2 separate regions of the Homo sapiens genome follow, and region 2 is linked to region 1. Evidence: fine-mapped expression QTL. Tissue or cell type: whole blood. Region 1 holds a variant in brackets; the other region holds the start of a gene. All regions are shown on one strand. Distances are between the middles of the regions.

Region 1 (8,310 bases):
CTGCCTGGAATAGAAGCCATGGAGAGATGTGAATAGAGCTGTGATATGAACCAACTTAGAAGGATCACTCTGTCTGCTGTGTGGATAAAAGACTATAAGAAATAAGGTGGAGAAAGAGACCATTTAGAAGACTGTAGCAGTCAATAGTTCTGGCAAGAGATGATAGTGCCTGGGACTACTGTGCATATTAGATACTGTAGGAACTAGATGTTTTTGGAACATACTTTAAAAGTAAAGTGCAGATGAATTGAATATAGGATATGAGAGAAAGAAAGTAGTCAAGGATCATACCATATATTTTTGTCTGAGCAAGTAGTAAACTACAGTGATCATTATAGTATCCTCCTTTATCCACAGGTGATATGTTCCAAGACCCCCCAGTGAATATCTGAAAATGAATACTACCAGAATCTATACTATGTTTTCTCCTGTACATATATACGTATGATAAAGTTTAATTTATAAATTAGGTAAAGTAAGATATTAATAACAATAATAATAAGAGAACAAGTATAATAATATAGTGTAATGAAAGTTATATTAATGTGCTATCTCCCTGTCTCTCAACATATCTTATTTTGCTGTACTAACCCTTATGATGATGATGTGAAATGATACAATGCCTATGTATGTGATGAGCTGAAGTGAGGTGAATGGCAGGCATTTTGATGGAGCATTAGGCTGCTATTGAGCTTCTAATAAGTCAGAAAGAAGATCATCTGCTTCTGGTGATCTTGGATCATTCAGCCATGATTGGATGCCTGGAGCAGACAATGTGATGGTAGAGGATTCCATAATTGAAGTTTTTTGCCAAAATGTTTTGGAATAACATTATAACCATAATAAAAATTTGTTGTCTCTTTCTTTTTAACTCATCAAAGTGTTGCTGCCGAGGTTGTAATCCTTTGGTAATCATAATCATATGAGTGACTTTAATGCTGCATTTGATCCAAGGATTATATTCCATAATTTTGTCCTTTAATGTCTTTGCAGCTGAAAACATGTCAGCAAATTTTCGTAATGTCCACATTGCTGATTCTGCTTCTGTTTTTTATTCTTCTTCGTATCCCTATTCCTCTGTAGATGATTCAACAAGTTCTTCCAATTTCTTATTTGTTAATACTTCTTGATGGCCTTCAAAATGTTCTTCCACCTGAGCAAGTATGTTGGCAAATCCTTCTCCTTTGCTGCAGGAATTATTTTCCTAACTTTGCCATCAACCTTCAGGAAGCTTTCACAATTTCACTCCATATGTTCTTTCAGCAGACATTTGCAGTTTTGGTTTTAATTCACCAATTACAACTTGATTAATATTATTGTGACAGCAATAGTGAGTGATTTCCAGCACTCCATAATGTCCAGATTAGAGTCTGCATCAATTGCTAATTGAATTCAATCAAATACTGAGCAGGTTTATGTGGCCTTGACAGACTAGATGATAACCTGGTCAAGGGGCTGAAGCAATTAGGTTGTATTTGGAGGTAAAAATGCAACATCAACATTTTCATTTTTGTAGCAAATATTCAGGATGGTTCAGTGCATTCCCTATTATTAAAAAGACTTTAAATTCCAATCCTTTATCTTCCAAGTATTTTTCACTTCCAGGATGAAGCATTGGTGGAACCATTCCATAAACAATATGGCTATCATTCATGCATTCTGATTATGTTACCATAACATGGGCAAATAATTTTTGGTTTTGGCATTGGTTTTGGATCTTTGCTTTGTACACTATGCCCGGCTTTATCACATGCCTTGCAGTATTGCCACACAGTACCAGAGTTAATCTGTCCTTCCATGTTTTATCACCTGATGCCTTTTTTGGACTTTTATGAATGTAGGTGCTATTGGTCATCTTCTTCCAGCAGAGCCAGGTTTCATCACAATTGAAGATTTGCTTTGGATGGTATCCTTTCTCCTTAATCAATTCCTTTAAATCTGCTGGAAATGTGCAGCTTCTTCATCTGCAGATACAGCCTCTTCAGTAATTTTTATATTTTCAGGTTCAAACCTATTCCTGAATCTGTATAATTATCTCTTACTTGTAGTAAATGGCTTGGTGTCACTCATTTCAAAGAATCCCTTGCTGAAGTCTTTATATAGGCTGAATGGGCCCAAGTACAACAGGTTGCCTTCAATCAGTATATGTTTTATTTTTTGCTCATGACTTCCACCCACAATTTAAGGCCTTTTCCATCATAACTAAGCACTTATCATGCACTGTGCCCATAAATTTTTCAGTTTGAGTAGCAAGAGCAAAACTAGCACAATTTTCTTTTTTCTATTTCACGATTTCATGTATAGAAAATTTATTATTACTGTATTAGTCAGTTCTCAGGCTGCTGATAAAGAGATACCCAAGACTGGGAAGTAAAAGAGGTTTTATGGACTTACAGTTCTGCGGGGCTAGGGAGGCCTCACAATCATGGCAGAAAGCAAGAAGGAGCAAGTCACATTTTACGTGGATGGCTGCAGGCAAAGAGAGAGCTTGTGCAGGGAAATTCCCATTTTTAAAACCATCAGATCTCTTGAGACTCATTCACTATCACAAAAACAGTCCAAGAAAGACCTGCTCCCATAATTCAATCACCTCCCACCAGATTCCTCCCATGACACATGGGAATTGTGGGAGTAACAATTCAAGATGAGATTTGGGTGGGAACACAGCCAAACCATACCATTCCACCACAGGCCCTCCCAAATCTCATGTACCCACACTTCGAAACAAATCATGCCTTCCTAACAGCCTCCCAAAGTCTTAACTCATTTCAGCATTAACTCAAAAGTCCACAGTCCAGCGTCTCATCTGAGACAAGGCAAGTCCCTTCCACCTATGAGCCGGTAAAATCAAAAGCAAGTTAGTTAATTCCTAGTTACAATGTGGGTACAGGCACTGGGTAAATAGGGCCATTCCAAATGGAAGAAATTGGCCAAAGCAAAGGGGCTACAGGCCCCATGCAAGCCAAAAATCCAGTGGGACAGTCAAATATTAAAGCTCCAAAATGATCTCCTTTGACTCCGTGTTTCACGTCCAGGTCACGCTGATGCAAGAGGTGAGTGCCCATGGTCTTGGGCAGCTCTGCCCCTGTAGCTTTCCAGGATACAGCCTCCCTCCCAGCTGCTTTCACAGGGTGTGTGGCTGTGTGTGGCTTCTCCAGGCGCATAGTGCAAGCTATCAGTGGATCTACCATTCTGGGGTCTGGAGGATAGTGGCCCTTCTCTCACAGCTCCACTAGGCAGTGCCCCATTAGGAACTCTACGTGGAGGCTCTAACCACATATTTTCCTTCCACACTGCCCTAGCAGAGGTTCTCCAGGAGATCCCTGGCCCTGCAGCAACCTTCTGTCTTTATATAAATGTCTTTATATTCAGGCATTTCTATATATTCTCTGAAATCTAGACAGAGGTTCCCAAACCTCAATTCTTGACCTCTGTCCACCCAGAGGCTCAAAACCATGTGGAAGCTGCCAAGGCTTGAGACTAGCAGCCTCTGAAGCCATGGCAAAAGCTCTACATCAGCTCCTTTCAGCCACGGCCGGAGCGACTGGGAAGCAGGACACAAAGTCCCTAGGCTGCACACAGCATGGGGACTCTGGGCCTGGCCCACAAAACCACTTTTTCTTCCTAGGCCTCTGGGCTTGTGATGGGAGGGGCTGCTGTGAAGACCTCTGACATACCCTGGAGACATTTCCTCCTTTGTCTTTGGGATTATCATTCATCTCCTCGTTACTTCTGCAAATTTCTGCAACTGGCTTGAATTTCTCCTCAGAAAATGGAATTTTCTTTTCTATTGCATTATGAGGCTACAGATTTTCCAAATTTTTATGCTCTGTTTCCCTTTTAAAACTGAATGCCTTTACCAGCACCCAAGTAATATTTTGAATACATTGCTGCTTAGAAACTTCTTCCACCAGACACCCTAAATCATCTTTCTCAAGCTCAAAGTTCCACAAATCTCTAGGGTAGGGGCAAAATGCTGCCAGTCTCTTTGCTAAAACATAATGAGAATCGCCATTGTTCCAGTTCCAACAAGTTCCTCATTTCTATCTGAGACCACCTTAGCCTGGACTTTATTGTCCATATCGCTATCAGCATTTTGGGCAAAGCCATTCAAGAAGTCTCTAGGAAGTTCCAAACTTTCCCATATTTTTCTGTCTTCTTCTGAGCCCTCCAAACTCTTCCAACCTCTGCCTGTTACCCAGTTCCAAAGTCACTTCCACATTTTCTGGTATCTTTACAGCAATGCCCCACTCTACTGGTACCAATTTACTGTATTAGTCTGTTCTCATGCTGCTGATAAAGACATTCCCAAGACTGGGAAGAAAAAGAGTTTTAATGGACTTAGAGTTCCACATGGCTGAGGAGGCCACACAATCTTGGGGGAAAGCAAGGAGGAGCAAGTCATATCTTACGTGGTTGGTAGCAGACAAAGAGAGAGCTTGTGCAGGGAAACTCCTGTATTTAAAACCATCAGATCTCATGAGACTCATTCACTTTCATGAGAACAGCTCAGGAAAGACCCACTCCCATAATTCAATCACCTCCCACCAGGTTCCTCCCACAACATGTGAGAATTGTGGGAGTTACAATTCAAGATGAGATTTGGGTGGGGACACAGCCAAACCATGTTAATTACCTTAGATCTTACCAACCTCAGCATACA[AC/A]TTTTTTCTTTTTTTTTTTCTTTTTTGCTTTCCTTAATTCAAGAGACTTCATCTTTTTACTTAAAGGAAGCACAATACAGTTTCTCTTTAGTGTATCCAAGTTGTCAGCATCATTACTCTTGTGCTTTGAGGCCATTATTAATTAAAATAAGGGCTAATTGAACAGAACACAGTGATACAGTGATACTCAACAAGCTGGGCAGTAAGTGACTAATAGGCAGGTGGTGTGCACAGCAAGAATATGCTGAACAAAGCAATGATTCACATTCCAGTTAGGACAGAGTGGGATGGTGTGAGATTTTATCACACAATTCAGAACTGTGTGCAATTTAAAACTTATGAAGTGGTATTATTAGCATTTTCCATTTAATATTTTCAGACCACAGTTTGCTGAAGGTATCTGAAACCACTGAAAGTGAGGCTATGGATAAGGGATACTACTGTATTATGAGACAAGGATGATTATCAAAAGGCCAGATTTAGAAGCAGAATATCAAGAATTCAATTGGGGATATGATAGGTTTGAGATGTCCATTGTAGATCTAAGTGGAGATGTGGAGTAACAGTTGAGTATATAAACTGAAATTTGAGCTAGGTGTAATCTCTTGCATTACTCCATTCTCAAATGGCTATAAAGAAATACCTGAGACTGGGTAGTTTATAAAGAAAAGAGGTTTAATTGACTTACAGTTCTGCAGATTGTAAAGGAGACATGGCTGGGAGACCTCAGGAAACTTAACAGTTACAGCAGAAGGAGAAGGAGAGGCAAGTATGTCTTACAATGGCAAAGCAGGAGAGAGAACAAAGGGGGAAAGGCTACACACTTTTAAACCACAAGATCTTGTGAAAACTCACTCAGTATCTTGAGAACGACAAGAGGAAAATCTGCCCCCATGATTCAATCACCTCCCATGAGACCCTCTCCTCTAAAACATGGGAATGACAATTTGACATGAGAATTGTGTGGGGACACAGAACCAAACCATATCATTCCACCATGGCTCCTCCCAAATCTCATGTCCTTCTCACATTTCAAAACAGAATCATGCCTTCCCAATAGTCCCCCAGGTCTTAACTCATTTCAGCATTAACTCAAAATCCAAGTCCAAAGTCTCATCTGAGACAAAGCAAGTCTCTTCTGCCTATGAGCCTGTAAAATAAAAAACAAGTTAGTTACTTCAAAGATACAAGGGGGGTAGAGGCATTGGGTAAATTTCTCCCATTCCAAAAGGGAGAAATTGGCCAAAACAAAGGGGTTACAGGCCCCATACAAGTCCAAAACCAAGCAGGAAACTCATTAAATCTTAAAGCTCCAAAATAATCTCCTTTCAGTCCATGTCTTACATCCAGGGCATGCTTATGTAAGGGGTGGGCTCCTACGGCCTTGGGCAGCTCTTCCCCTATGGCTCTTCAGGGTACAGCCACCACAGCTGCTTTCACAGGATGGTGTTCGGTGCGTATGGCTTTTCCAGACACATAGTGCAAGCTGTTGGTTGAACCATCATTCAGGAATCTGAAGGACAGTGGCTCTCTTCTCACAGCTCTACTAGGCACTGCCCCAGTGGGGAGTCTGCATGGAGGCTCCAACCTCACATTTCCCCTCTGCACTGCCCTAGTAGAGGTTCTTCATGAGGTCTCCACCCTTGCAGCAGATTTCTACCTGGATATGCAGGTGTTTCTGTACATCCTATGAAATCTAGGCAAAGGCTCCCAAACTCCAACTCTTGCCTTCTGCACACCACAGGCCCAACACCATGTGGAAGCTGCCAAGGCTTGGGACTTGCCCCCTCTGAAGTCATGACCCAAGCTGTACCTTGGTCCCTATTAGCCATAGCTGGAGTTGGAGTGGCTGGGACACAGGGTGCCATGTCCCAAGGCTGTACAGAGCAACGGGGCCTTGGGCCTGGCCCCAGAAAATGGGATTTTCTTTTCTACCACATGGTCAGGCTCTGTTTGTGAGCACATATAACTGAATGCTTTCAGCATCAACCAGGTCAACTCTTGAATGCTTTGCTGCTTAGAAATGTCTTCTACCAGATACCCTAAATCTTCTCTTTAAGTTCAAAGTTCCATAGATCCCTAAAGCAGGGGTACAATGCTGCCAGTCTCTTTGCTAAAGCATAGCAAGAGTGACCTTTACTCAAGTTCCCAATAAGTTCCCCATCTCCACCTAAGACCACCTCAGCCTAGACTTCACTGTCCATATCACTATTAGCATTATGGTCACAGCCATTCAACAAGTCTCCAGGAAGTTCCAAACATTTCCTCATCTTCCTGTCATTTTCTTATCTCTCTGAACTGTTCCAACACTTCCCCATTATCCAGTTCCAACGTCACTTCTACATTTTCAGGTGTCTTTATACTCCACTCTCGGTACAAATTTTCTGTAATAGTTCTTACTCACCTTGCTAAAAGAACTGTCTGAGACTGGGTAGTTTATAAAGAAAAGAGGTTTAATTGACTCACAATTCTGCAGGCTATGCAAGAAGCATGGCTGGGAGGCCTCAGAAAACTTACAAGAAAAGAGAAGGGGAAGCAAGCATGTCTTCTCATGGCAGGGCAGGAGAGAGAGCAAAGGGGAAAGTGCAACACACTATTTATTTATTTATTTATTTATTTATTTATTTATTTATTTGAGATGGAGTTTCACACTTGTTGCCCAGGCTGGAGTGCAATGGCATGATCTCAGCTCACCACAACCTCTGCCTCCCGGGTTCAAGTGATTCTCCTGCGTCAGCCTCCCAAATAGCTGGGATTACAGGTATGCCCCACCACGCCCTGCTAACTTTGTATTTTTAGTAGAGACGGGGTTTCTCCATGTTGGTCAGGCTGGTCTCGAGCTCTCGACCTCAGGTGATCCACCAGCCTCGGCCTCCCAAAGTGCTGGGATTACAGGCGTGAACCATCACGTCTGGCGTGCAACATACTTTTAAACAAGCAGATCTCATGAGAACTCACTCATTATCACAAGAACAGCAAGAGGGAAATCTACCACCAAGATTCAATCACCTCTCATCAGACCCCTCCTCCAACACATGGGAATTACAATTTGACATGAGATTTGGGTGAGGACATAGAGCCAAACCATATCATCTCTTAATCACAACTTAAAAATCAATCTGTGTGATCACAGATCCTGTTTTTTGTTTTGGTTCTGCTTAACTGTTAAATGTCTATGCCTAGCATGTGCCTGACACAGAGAAGGTATTCAATAATTGATATTTGGTGAATGAATGTACAAATTAATTTCTAGTTTCATGGTTTGAACAGGGCCTTGGGTATTTCTGATGATTTCTGAATTACCACCAATGACTATAATTTAAATTTTCAAACACAAATCAATGCGAATAGGGAATATGAGGAAATGTTGACTCTGGCCAAGTTATCTCTAAAACAACAACAAACGAAAAACAATTATTTTCCACTGGGAAAACCATTTGGATAACTGTTTAGTTAAACAAATTTTGTGTCCAGCTAAGATGTGGGTGTCTATAAACTTATATCCAAGACATACTTAATAGGCTTTGTTTCTAGAGTCCACCTTATGATGGCCTAATCATTTCTTCTTTGTAACCATAAAGAAATAGTGACAATTGCCTTCAGTCAATAGTCTAAGCAGAAATTTGAAAATTGCCCTCATAATATA
Region 2 (8,310 bases), 120 kb after region 1:
ATAAAAAGAACCAAACAAAAATAGCCAGGAGAAGAATTTCCTAGGAGCTAGACTTAAACAATAAACAGGATTTCAAAAAACTAAAAAGGAAGGAACAGAAATTTGAGAGTGCTATTCATGCACATATCTAGGATTACAGGACATGCGGATTCTCAATTCCAGTAGATATTATTAAATTGTTCTCCAAAGACACTGTGCTTCCATCAACGGTCAATTCCCATCCTGACATTTGGTACAATCAGAGTTTATTTTAAGATGCTTTGTCCCATGTGTTGGATAGAAAAGGGTAGCTCAATTTAATTTTCATTTCTTGTCTTCACATTCTCTATAGTAGTTTTATATGTCTGTTGTCATGTGAAATAAAAGGCACAGTCTGTTTATGGATGATATGTCATTCTGTGTGGCTGAAGCACAGAATACAGAAAGTACAGAGGACAAGACCCTCTCTCTTCCAGAGGTTTCTCCAGGCCCTTGCTCTTTTCCTCTCCACCCCATAAATTGCTGGTTTGCATCAGTAGATAGGGACAAACCTTTCCTTTTTTCCTTGAATGTACCACAGTAAATTAGAGAGTTTATAAATGAATGAATGTGGTACAAAAATACTGGTCTTGACAGAAACATTTGAAACCATTTCCTTTGTTTTTGCCCAAAACTTGGTTTCTGCCCAGTTTGGATCATAGAATAGTAAGGTGCCTCAGAAAACACACACAAATTTTATCCAGGTCTGGAGACATGACGGCAAAGACTTGGCAGGAATACATCCACCTTCTCCTTATCCCATCTAGAAGGCAGAAAGGGCAGGAAAGATAAATCAGGGTATGAACCTGATTTACTGGCACTGATTAAGAAGGTTCTGCCTCTGAAAGCTCCCATAAGGATATAATTTTCAGGTAACAATTCCTATACGTTATTTTCAGAGAAAATGATTATTTTAGCCAAAATCTTATTTAGTCTTTCCATGCTAAGAATAAAGTGGCAACCAAAAGGAATCAATACAGCACACAGAACTCTCAAAAATTTAACAAAAATCTATGTTCTCAACTCTGGTCAACAAAGCACCAGAGCTAGGAAAAACTACACTCCAAAAATTGATGAATGTGTATCACATTCCCAACTACAGTGGGTAAACTGAAAATCACTATAAATATTTGTTTTCAAAAATAATTTGCTGTTATCATTCCAGTAACACTATAATGCCATATTGCCTCAAATACAAATAGATTAGTCTAATCCAGGGATTCTTAACCCTGGGCAATTTTGTCCCTCTGGGGACATTAGGCCTTTTTTGTTTTTTTGGTGCTCAGATTAGAAAGGTTATACTACTGGCATCTAGTGCACAGAGGTTAAGGATACTGCTAAACATCAATGCACAGGATAGTCCCTCAAAGCAAAGAAGTGTCTGGCTCAAAATGTCAATAGGGCCAAGAAATTGTGATTTAAACCATTTCTTCTTGGTTAGCTGGGACATGTTGACAAATATACAGGGTTAGAGATGATAAGCACTCTTCTTAAAGAACTATTAAGCTAGACAATTTAGGGTCCTATAGAAGATCTTGATATTTATGTCAACGAATAAGCTTCTATTTAGTAATTTTCAGTTGAAACTTGTAAAGAATAAAATAGACCACAGTCCATGATTCTGCCCACTTTATCAAGCAGTTTACCTCTACATTTATTAGTTTATCACATAACCTATGAGAACACCTACCTACACCGAAATTTGTAATCAAACTGACTACTGCTGGCTTCACCTATCACAAATTAGTATTTTCCCACATTTCGACCCTAACCGAATTCTCCATGCCTGCTTACCAAGTGACCAGTCCTCAGATTTAAACAGTGGGTTTCATGTGGTCGTTTCCTGAGGAAACTTTCATACCTAAAATTCTCTTTCTCTGATATCACAATCCATTAAAAGTTTACTGTCCAGTTCCATGAAATTTAAAATCCAGAGTGAGAAGGGAATTTGATTTTGACTATAAATATAAAGGCAGATACAAAGGGATGTCCTCTATTAAAAAGTTAGGGGTGTTGGCAATGAAGTGGAATAAAATATACAAAGGCCAAAGAGGCCTCTCTAAATATTACAAAGTCCTTAGAGGTTATTTTATTTCCCAGTTAAAGTCTCCTTGGGTGTTTCAACAAAGAAAGACATTTTTCTGGGGAAGGCTTTTTGTTCTGTTTTTCCTTTTTAAATTTCTCTACTTCCAAATTTGCTGAAAGTATTTACTTTCTACTTTCCAGATATTATGTTAGAAGAAATATTTTTAAATTATGCAAAAGTTTAGTTCAAATTTAGAGGAATCACACGGGTTCAGAAATCCATTTTTAAATGGTCACATATACCTAACAGAAAGAAAAGCATCCTGTAACTGATAGAAATCCATCTGAATGCTGAAGTTTCTCAAGCTAACAAAGCAAGCACTGTTTTGTAGAAAGATAGGCAGTTCAGCCTGCTGACGCTTTCTGAAACACTTAAAGATGAAGACAAAACTATCGCTACATGGATTAGCTGGACTGCAAACCAAATGTCACTTTCTGAATGTAACTCTGAAATAGAAATTTCTGTCCTTAGGCTTAAGAAAAGTTCAAGTAGAAAAGCACTCTATTATAAACTTGGGGGAAAAAATGGTGCCAAGATGACTTAACAAAAAACAAAACAAAACAAAAAGGACATTAGAAGGTCATTTAAATGCAAGATCTAATTTCAGAGAGTTGAGCACAAAGAGCACAAATGTGGAAAACTCCAAGGATTTTTCATGTGCCACAAAAGGCAGCAAAGCATGTTTAGACAGACGTGGTGAAACTCTCTTTAATCTGGCTAAATATAAAACGTTTTGTTTTACACAGCTTCTGAAAACGAGAGACAGCACCGGGCTCAAGAAAAGGGTAGGTAAGGGGAGCAGCTGTGTGTCCACAGCTTCCCCTTCAGATCCCAAAGGAAGAAAGCTGCCGCCTGGAGGTACTGGGTAGCCAGGCAGCCTTACTGAAAACAACTAAGGTTTTCGAGCGAGCGTTGTTTTTGGCAAGAGGGAGGTGTTACCGGCTGCTTCCTGGGGTGCTGGAAGGAATGTGTCACCATCAATTAGAAAGTACACTAAGCCCCGTGTTTAGGTCACAGAAGGAGTACTGCCTCGTCCATCAAGGATAAATCCATGCCAACTCTCGGAAAGGAGGGGAAAGGAGAGCTGCAGGAAAGGTGTTGGTGCCCATGACCTGCAAGTCCAAAAGGAAACTCCAACTTGTTCTGCAGGGAAATTCGGGCACGCTGAGTTCACCGAGAACTCCAAGGAGTCAACGAGGGCGGGTGCCCCTACACTTCCCCAGGGACCAGCGCCGCCCGACCGCAATTCTGGGGAAGACCCCGGCGGTCCTGGAGAGGAGGGACAGGCCCCCACTACTCACCTGGCCAGCCCCGCGGAAGGGCTGGTGGATGAATGAACTGCCCCCCCGCCGGCCGAGCCTCGCGGGACAGCGGCGGACCGCGGGGTGCTCACCTGTGGGGATGCTCGAGGGCTTCTCCGAGTCCGCACCCAGACAGGGATTCCAGGGGTGGAGGACGAGCGCCAGGAGCAGCAGCTGAGGCTTCACCGTGCATCCCCCCATATTCGGCCCTCGAGGGCCGCGCGGGCTCAGGCGCCCACGGCCCCGCAGCGCCGCGCTTCTCGCGAGAACGCAGAGACCCGGGTCCGCCCTGAGCCGCCGATTGCGGGCGGGAGCCGGCGGGCAAGGCGCGCGGCCGGCAGCCGGAGCGGCGCGTAACGCAGCTGAGTGAGGTCGTCGGTGGAGGCACGGAGCAGCAGGCGCCCGGGGCGCTGCGGAGGCCTTATAGGCTCCCCGAGGGGAGGCGACGGGGCGGGCCGCGCCCTGGCTATTGGCCGCCGGCTGACCCGCCGCCGCTGCGCGCCCGGTGCGGTCGCCTCAGCTCGCCCTCCTGGGCCCCACGTCTGGACTGTTTGCTCAGCGCGGACGCTATTTAAGGAGCTGCCTGCGGCTACGTGTGGAGGCTCACGCAGCGCTTCTGGCTGGAACGGGGAAGCCTGCACTTAGCTTTGGGAGTGGGTTTGGGAGAGGGAGGAGGAGCCGCCGGGAGTCTGGCGGGAGGGCGGTGTTCCCGTCTGGGTTCCTCTCTGCTGTCCCAGCCCCGGTAGCTTCCACAGCAGCCTCGAAGGGTGAGAATTTGCTCTTCTATGGACTTGGATACTCCACCCAGTCTGAAGTGACTGCAAATCTGCGGCAATCTTGGCTGACTGGGACCTCGCCAGACTCTTAAGCCATGGAAATGGATCGCCCCTCATTAATTCAGGGGCAGGTTCATCACCCTGTAAAAGGAAGGCCGTGATTTTATTTTACTCCGTAAACCGAAAGTTTTATTGTCCAGTGAACATTTCTTGCTCCGCCGCTTGTGCCAAGAGAGCCTTAGACTCTTTCCAGTAATGAGGCTTGTAAATCCTGCGGAATCGGAGCCCAACGTGTGTAATGCCGGGGCTGTGCTTACAAGATCGTGCTCCAGTCCGCATGGAAAATTACTCCCAAAGACGTGGTCGGAGAGGTCGAGATCTCTGAGCCTTGGCCCCCACTGCTTCCACTTTTGACTGATGTCTAAGAAAATTCCCTTTTTTCTGTTCTCACATTTTAACTAGCCAAGGGTTTAACTTGTTGGAATGAGTGGGAGCAAAAGCACAATTAAGAAAAAAGCTTGACAGTTTTGCCTCATACATTTAATGACATAAGCTATTTTATAGGAGAAAGAGAACCAAACTGCTACCATTCTGGAATCTCCTGCCTAAATTTTCGTGAAATTAGAAAAAAACAGAATCGAGACAACACCCGTTATAACTCTGGGCCTTTGAAATTAAGACAGAAAATTATGGAAAAATGTGTTCCATTATGATCACGTTTTGTCTAAAATTAACATATCAAGATAACATGAACTTAATGCTTTCATCTTGATAGCATTAAAAACAGGTGGAAAACCCTGCAAAGAAATCTTGCCTGGGATGTGACATTTTAGAAAGAATCATTTCCTGTGCCCAGAACTAAGCCAGTTATTACTCTGTTTTGAAGGTTTGGTCTCAGTTTTTTAAAAGAAGAGGAAAACTGGAGAAAGTTCTGAGAAGAGTAACAAATAATTAAAGAAGTGGAAACTATGACCTGTGAGAAGAATGAAATAAGGTTTATTTAGTCTGAAGGGGAAAAAAAAAGCTAAAAGATGGATTCCTTAATAACAGCCTTTCATGTGTGGCAAGTACAGCTTCATAAAACTAGGCACAAAGCAAACAGCATCAGTCCTCTGAGTCCAAGGACTCTGCTAGGAATGGCTGGTGTTTTGGCCAGATCTGTCTCCAGAAAGCCAAACCTGCAATTGCCAAACTCCTTGAACTTGACTTCTTGCTTCCTTGGTTCTCCAGTATCTTTAAGAACTTGGAGAGCTACAACCTGGCTTCCTGCCCTCCCAAACCCCCGTTCCCCTCATGAATGCTTACCGGCTTCTCTGCATCACAGGTGTGTGTGTGTGTTTAAACTCCAAAAGTCCACTAATAATTTCAGGTTATTTTGACATTCTTCCTTCTCTGTTAAGAGTCACAACATCTGTGCTGTGAGACTCGTATAAAGCAAGTGTTGGGATTTTCAAATACCTAGACATTTCTAACAGTCTGAAAGAGCCCCAATTCTCAAACCAAATCCTTCCTGCTTTCTTACATTTCCAGCCATCTGCTGAACATTTCTACTTGGATGTTCCATTGGCAAAAACTCGATATGTCTTTTTTTTTTTTTTTTGAGACAGTCTCGCTCTTTTGCCTAGGCTAGAGTGCGGTGGTGCGATATCCCCTCACTGCAAGCTCCCTCCGCCTCCCGGGTTCACACCATTCTCCTGCCTCAGCCTCCTGAGTAGCTGGGACTACAGGCGCTCGCCACCAGGCCCGGCTAATTTTTTTTTTTTTTTTTTGTATTTTTAGTCGAAACGGGGTTTCACCGTGTTAGCCAGGATGGTCTCGATCTCCTGACCTCGTGATCCGCCCGCCTCGGCCTCCCAAAGTGTTGGGATTACAGGCGTGAGCCACCAAGCCCGGCCTGATATGTCTTTTAACTCATCAAATCCAGATCCCACTCGGCTCCCTCATCTCTGTTGATACTACTGCTCTCTAACTCATATGGCCTCAGACATTTTTACTTCTCTCTTTCCATCCCCCACACCCGCCAACTCACAGAGCCGGACTCCAAATCTTGTCATTTTTTCCCTTCATGTTCTCTCTTCATCTATTCCTTTCCATTCTCACTGCTACCTCACTAACTAATGCACTCTTGAGTGTATCCTATGCCATTTCCTGTAGACTTTCCCTACCACCAGTGTAATACCACTATATACCACAACTAGATTAATCATACTCAGATATCCTTTTGATTGCTTCATCCCCAAACAGATTTCATAACAGATTTGGAAACAATCCACATTCCCTAACCTAGTATTCAGATTCCTTCATGCCAAACTAAACCCAACCAACGTAGTTTGCTTTATTATCTCCTAAAGCAGACCAAATACTTTGTCACTTTAATTCTCTAAAGTTTAGGTAGGAATCATTTGGGTTCCTCTGAAGCCCAAGCATGAGCCCAAATTCAGTGACTAGCGGTTTGTGGAGAGTTTTGAGAAAACCAGATAGGTGAAGCTAAAATGACACAGGAAAGGGAAAATATCCAATTAAATCAACCACAGTGGGTAATGGGAGCTTAATCCCACAAAATTGATGTACTATATATCACTCAAAAATATCCTGGTCAATGGGTCAGAGAACTGGGATATATATTCCCAACACCTATCAGTCATTGACTTAAGGGCTGAGGGACACTCATTAATTCCCAGGCATTCCCAACCTGCTATGGTAGCAGCCACTCTGATGATGTAACTCTTGATCATAAGAAGTCAGGGTGACATGCTCAGAAATGGTAAGGAAATTTGAGGAGAAATGAGAGAAGCAGCATTTGCTCAGCAACCATACCTTTGTTCATGTTATCCCTATATCTAAAAAAAAAAAGGATGACAAAACCTGTCCTCCTTCCTTCATTGGGCTAATGTCTGTCAAGCTCAAGTGCCACCTCCTACAGGAAGCCCAACTGGGGTAACTTACCCTACCTCAGGATGGGTTTAGATGTCCCTGTTCCATGATTTCTAACTTCTGAAGCAAACCTCTCTCATTTGTGACAGGGTCTTTTCTTAGAATTATTATTAGACAGTGTGTCTGTTAAGGTCAGGATTCAATTATTTTTCATCATCAAAGAGTAAGTACCATAGTAGCACATTTGTTTATTCATTGATTCATTCAAAAAATATTCCATGACTACTATATCTCAGGCATTGTTCTAGATAGATATTGGTAAAAACAAATTTATTAGTGACAGAAAAAACAAAAATCTACTGTGCTTTAGTTTCAGGTGAAACAGAGATAAACATATAAGGTAATAAGTGGTAGAGAGAAAGTAAATCAGGAAAGGTAACTGGGAAGGACCAATAAGGAGGGGAGGTATACCAAAACCTTAGTAAGGGATCCTGGGAAAGCCCCACTGAGAAGACGATTCTTGAGCAAAGACCTGAAAGTGGTGAGAAAAAGAGGGGGCCAGGATGTACAGGGGACCTGTGTTCCAGGCAGAAGAAACAGGAAGTGCAAGGACTGTGAGACCAGAAATACCTGGAGTGTTGTGAGGAAGCAAGAGGGCAATTGAATGTTCAGTGACTGTGCATAAGAATAGTAGGAGATGAAGCCTGAGAAGGTAACAAGCAGGGCGGAGGCAAGCAGATAAACAGACAGTGTGATAAGGGTAGAACCTAGTAACAGCTTTGTCCTTTACCCTGGATGAATTGAAAAGCCATTTGGATGGTTCTAAGCAGAGCAGTGACATGATCTGAAGTAGGATTTAAAAAGGATCACAGAGTCCACAGCTGCCACATTAGAGGAAGATAAGGGAGAGTGAGTGGAGAAATAAAACAGAAAGTCTGTAGACCTGTAGACCAACTTGAAAGCTAATGCAGTGGTCCAGGAGAGAGATGACGGAGGCTTTAAGCAAGTCAGTAGCAGTAAATGAAGGTCAATTTCCAGATAGATTTGAATGTAGAGTCAACAAAATTTGATGTCTGAATGTGGGCGTAGGAGAGAAAAAGGAGTCAACGAATATTTATTCAATGAATATTTGTGGAGTGAATAAGAAGTAAAGCTTTGGGAATTCGCGGAATAACCCTGGAGGTACAGAGGAAGGGGGATGTTAAATGAATTAGAGGACAAAGAAAAACCACCAGACATCCAAGAGCTGAAACTC

Evidence for each region. PIP is the estimated chance that this variant, and not a neighbour inherited with it, causes the effect.
Region 2: PLOD2 starts here. The variant in region 1 is fine-mapped to the expression of PLOD2 in whole blood (INTERVAL, PIP 0.95).

The regions. Positions count from the first base shown.
Region 1 is chr3:146,039,336-146,047,645 of GRCh38, forward strand. No RefSeq gene overlaps it. Among named protein-coding and RNA genes, the nearest start is that of LNCSRLR, 26 kb to the right of the region's middle. The variant AC/A (reference allele first, on the strand shown) is at 4,664.
Region 2 is chr3:146,157,384-146,165,693 of GRCh38, forward strand. PLOD2 (procollagen-lysine,2-oxoglutarate 5-dioxygenase 2) reads right to left here and starts at 3,801. Exons shown (of 20, transcript NM_182943.3): 1 at 3,498-3,801. The coding sequence starts at 3,606.